2 separate regions of the Homo sapiens genome follow, and region 1 is linked to region 2. Evidence: fine-mapped QTL for protein levels in blood plasma. A gene starts in region 2. The other region holds a variant in brackets. All regions are shown on one strand. Distances are between the middles of the regions.

Evidence for each region. A credible set is the group of variants that fine-mapping cannot tell apart. PIP is the chance, under the fine-mapping model, that this variant and not a neighbour inherited with it causes the effect. The UK Biobank Pharma Proteomics Project read protein levels with antibody pairs (Olink). The fine-mapping took linkage between variants from a reference panel, not from the people measured, so its PIPs are less certain.
Region 1: its variant is the best candidate, but not a certain one, in a credible set for the plasma level of the IL17D protein (UK Biobank, PIP 0.74).

The regions. Positions count from the first base shown.
Region 1 is chr13:20,716,365-20,718,864 of GRCh38, reverse strand. The region is part of intron 1 of IL17D (interleukin 17D); the gene reads right to left. Among named protein-coding and RNA genes, the nearest start is that of IL17D, 14 kb to the right of the region's middle. RefSeq lists a silencer at 1,021-1,315 and an enhancer at 1,426-2,140. The variant C/T (reference allele first, on the strand shown) is at 943.
Region 2 is chr13:20,702,283-20,704,782 of GRCh38, reverse strand. It overlaps IL17D (interleukin 17D), which reads right to left and starts at 1,084. Exons shown (of 2, transcript NM_001385224.1): 1 at 492-1,084. The coding sequence starts at 781. RefSeq lists silencers at 263-772, 1,063-1,202, 1,623-1,702.

The DNA of each region.
Region 1 (2,500 bases), 14 kb before region 2:
TGTGTGTGGGTGAGGGGGCAGGTGTGTCTGAGTGTGGGCAGGTGTGTGTGGGCAGGGGTGAGCGTGGGCAGGTGTGTGTGGGTGTGTGAGCATGGGCGGGTGTGTGAGCACAGGCAGGTGTGTGTGAGCGTAGCCATGTGTGTAAGTGGGCAGGTGTGTGTGAGCGTGGGCGTGTAAGTGGGCAGGTGTGTGTGAGCGTGGGCATGTAAGTGGGCAGGTGTGTGAGCGTGGGCCTGTGTGTGGGGGGCAGGTGTGTCTGAGTGTGGGCAGGTGTGTGGGGGCAGGTGTGAGCATGGGCAGGTATGTGTGGGTGTGTGAGCATGGGCGGGTGTGTGGGTGGGGGGTAAGTGTGTCTGAGTGTGGGCAGGTGTGTGGGGGCAGGTGTGAGCGTGGGCAGGTGTGTGTGGGTGTGTGAGCATGGGCGGGTGTGTGAGCACGGGCACGTATGTGTGTGAGCGTTGGCGTGTGTGTGTAAGTGGGCAGGTGCGTGTGAGCGTGGGCATCTGTGGGCGTGTGTGTAAGCATGGACAGGTTGCGTGCTCACACGCACGCGGCATGCAGCAGGCTGGAGTCATGGTGAGCTATTCGAGAGGTGCACAGGAGCCCTGGAGACCACAGCAGTTAGTCTGTATGTGATCTTGCTCCTGGAAACTCATGAAGGGCACCGGGCAGCTGCACACACGTGAGATGTGGTTTTGGAAAGGCTGTCAGAACAGTACCGAGGATGTGCCGCAGGAAAACCAAAGGCGGGCGGGCGGGTCAGGCATTCCTCTGTGGACTCAGTCTCTTCACGGGTGGGGTGAGTGACGTGAGGGCATCGCCCGGCCCTCTGAGTTCTCGTCACCTGGGACTGGTCTTTCCGTGCCCTCGGTATGTAGGTAACTGCTCATATTTCACCATCGTTTGGGTTCTTCATGAACAACTGTCACTCAGGCGTCACCC[C/T]CGGTAGTTTTGTAGGTGATAACTGACAGTCACTTGGATGCGGTGAGGGTCAGAGTTTCATCCGCCTAAAAATATACAGCGCAGCCCTGCACTGGACTTGGGACTGAAATTGCCCCCGCCGCTGGGATGCCTCTGGGCTAAGTAAGGCCTCTGACAAGACACCTCCCCCCATGGCTGCGTGGGCCATGGGAGATCAGAGGCATGAACAGGGGCGGGTTTCAGGCAGTTCTCTCACAATGGGAAGGTGCCGCTAAGGGGGGTGCCGCGCATCTACCATGCCCTGCTGCCCAGGGCGCGGGGGCTTGAGGCCTGCAGTCCCAGAGAAGCAGAAAGACAAGGCCTGTGCCTTTGGAAGGATCCAGCGGGGGCCTGGGAAAGAGGTCATGAGAGAAGCCCTAGGGCCCTCGCTGGCACAGACTCAGAGCTGAAGTCCCTCACCCCAGCCTCCTGCCTGCAGTCTGGGGACATCAACAGCTAGGTGTGCTTTTCGGTTAAGGAAAGCTGCCACCAAAAAGAAACAGCAAGAAACTGCAACGGGAGCCTTTTCTCTTACCAAACACGGACAAGCAACCGAGCAGAGTTCTGCCCTGTGCCGCGCCTCCTGTGGGCAGTCATTCTTTTGTCTTCACATTTTCTGCGTGCTGCTCTGCAGAAGCTTGGCACCAGGGCATTCTTGAAACACATCAAGTTTTCCCCTCTGATGGGATCGCAGAAGTGTCCCTGGCCACGTGGGAAGCTTGGCTTGAGCGAGTGACAGGTGGCCCGGCTTAATCCAGGAACAAAGGACGAGTCCTCCAGGGATGATTAGAGGTGATGGAAACTGAGCTGGGAGAGGAATGTAAGTGACAGCAGAGACAGAAAAAGAGCCCTGCCCCTGGGGCCGGACGCGGTAGGAAACAATTTGAAGCGGCTCCGGAGCTCTGAAAACAATGAACACATTCCGAGGGAGGATCGGGCCACCTGATGTGTCCTCTAACTGATGCCCAAGGATAGCTGGGGCGCTGGTTGGCACACGCGCCTTGATGTGGCTCACCCTCCCACCTTGCAAAACATGAAATGATTTCAGAGCAGCAGGGGCTCAGGATGACTGTTTATCTCACAGCAGTTGAAAGACCCCATCCCAGGAACAAAGTGGGGGCAATGCCTTCTCCAATCTTGGCTAGAACCCACAAGCACCGAAATGTGTCCGTGGAGACAGCCTGCCTCGGTAGCGTGGCTCGCCAGATCCGAAGGTCAATGAGTTCAACCCAGCAGACTCTCTTAAAAGGGGAGGATGCAGCCATTAAGAGTCTGGGACCTAAAACTGTAGCCCAACTTAGTCACCACCCAGTAACCTTGGGCAGAGAACTCCACCTTGCCTGGTTCTTTGCAAAGTGAAGGAGATGGATTTGATGAGCACTTCCCACAATTTCCTAACGGCAGGACTGATCATGTGACATTTTCACCAATGTTTTATGCTTAGAAAAGACACTGGCAATACATTGAGTCTCTAAGGTCTTGGAAAATTCCAATTAATCTATAAAGTCAGTGCAATTCTAACGAAATCCCAGAAAGATTT
Region 2 (2,500 bases):
CCCCCTGTGCAGAGTACGGTCCACATCACTGTGTCCACATCACGGAAGGGTCCCCAGCTAGTGCCTTGCGGACCCATCCAACCTGGAGGAGATGAGGTGTTCAAGAGATACGTGTTGCATAGGAAATACTGGAGGGTAAAGAGAGGAAGCAGGACTCCTTCAAGGGAGGTGGTGGGGGTGGGCCTTCGCAGTTTAGGAATTGCCCCCCAGTGCTCCAACTGCCCCGCCCCACCCCGCCTCATCGCAGCGCCCCTCGCACCCCACCCCACCCTACCGTACCCTACCCTGTCTCGCCCCGCACCACCCCACCCCTACCTGCTCCGCCTCGCCCCGCGTGCCACGCCCCCTCCGCGTCGCCCCGCCCCAACCACCTCCCCTTCCCCGCCCCACCCTCCCCGCCTGCCCGGCCTCGGCCCGGCCCCACCCACTCTCCCCGCCCAGCCCTGCCCTCCCCACCTGCCGGGCCCCGCCAGGACGCGCCCGCGGCTCACCTGTAGGCCCAGGGCGACACGCTGCGCAGGTTGGTGGGCGGCCGGAAGCGGCGGTCGGCGGGCCTGCCCCCTGCCGGGCAGCTCGCGTTGCGCGCCTGCTCACGCGGCCCCAGCTGCAGCGTGTGGTGGAAGGCACTGAGCACGCCGGCCGCCAGGCGCCCGTACAGCTGCTCCAGTAGCTCCTCCGGCCGGTCCGCGCAGCCCCGCGGCCGCGCGGGGCGCCTGCCCGCCCTCGGGGCGCCCGCGGCCCAGCTCGGCGGCAGCGCCAGCAGGAAGCCGGCTACCAGCATCCAGACCTGAGGGACAGGCCACGCTCAGCGTCCGCACGCGCCGGAGGAGCCCGCCTGCGCCCCGCGCCCGTGTCCCGCCCGCGGCGCCCGGAGCCGGCGGGCGCCTCCCCTCGCCCCGCGGAGCCAGAGGCCGGCCCGGAGGATGGGAGCCGCGCGGGCGGGCCCCAGAGCGCCCTCCCCGCCTGCCCGCCGCCCGCGGGGTCCCCGGGGCCCAGCCCGGCGCCGGCCCGCGCGCCCCCGGCCCCCGCCGCCGCCGCCGCCCCGAGCCGGGGGCCGCACGGGGGGCGGGTGCGGGGCGCGCGTGCACGTGTGCGTGTGCCTGCCGGGTTGCTGCGCCGCGGGCTGCGAGTGCTTGTGACCCGCCGCACCCTCACCCCCGGGCGCGCCATCCCTGCTCCGCCGCCAGCGAGGGAGCCCCGGAGCCTAAGACGCCCGGACCCGCCGCCTCGCAGACCCACCCTTGCCCCTGCGCCTCGTCATCCGCCCGCCCCAGCCAGCCCGCGCAGGGTCCGCGGCCCGCTTTTCCGCGAGAAGCCCCCTGTGGTCTTTCCTCGTACCCGGGGACTCGGACCGAGAAGCCGACTGAGCGAGGTCGCCGCCCGGCCTCACGGACACAGAGCGACTCTGCACCTTTCGCCTCCAGGAGCTGAAAACATTTTGTCACTTGTGCAGTGTACTCACCAGTGCCCCCAACATCTTCTCCCCCGAAAGCGCTTTCAGATTCGCGCCGAGATGGGGCGACGCGGCGGCTCTTGAGCGGAATAACCCGAAGGGCCACGCAAACTGGGGCTTCCAGCCGCGAGCATGCGGCGGGGCGCCCAGGGCCTGGGGTCGCGCGCTCAGGGCCTGTGCTGCGCCACGCAGGAGGAGGAGAGGGCTGGCCCTGCCGGGCGCGGGTGCGGGCCCGACTGGCTGAAGGAGGAGTGGGGACTGGCTTGGAAGTCTCCGAAGCAGAAAAGTGGGGCCGACAGGATGGAATTGGGGGAGGCCGATTTTGGCTCAGAGAGATTTCTCTATTAAGGAAAGCAGTCCAAGAATAGGCCCCCTGGAAGAGGAATGCGCTCAAACCCAGAGGGATTCTCCTTAGAGCTACCTCTTGAGATTCTGTACTTCGAGGAAATTAGAGGTTTTTTTAAATCTCTATTTTTAATAAGGTGGGAGGAGGCTGTTGCTCCTTTCTCCTCAACAACATGAAATGATCCTGTGCCTCTATCCAACAACTCTACAACAAAGCACTGAATACTTCCCTGACTGGCACTTTCATGGCTGTTCATGGGCATCTCTTGGTCTATGACGACGATGTTGGAGAGTTCCTACTCCGTGATAACTCAGTTCTAAGTGCAAGCAGTCACGTGAAATGAGCCTGATAGTCTGCGAATGAAGAAACTAAAACGAACTATATTATATACTTCATAACACAAGACAACGTGCTCGTTTGTTCATTCTGCAAGTAAATGCTTAATGCTTCCTAGGTGGCAGGCTAAAGAATATGATCATTTTAAAGCAGTCATGCTTTGAAAATAAACAACCCATCCCAGCTGTAAGCTTTTTGAAAGTGTACAAAATATGTAATTGATGACTCCCTAAATGGTTTGCAGCTTTGGTATTTGACTGAATTGTAAACCATTAGTTAAACTACATTTCAGTTATGCTTTGTAGGAAAAACACTTTCCTATGCATTGAATGTTCTATAACTAAGGAGCTTAGTAATCTACTGCT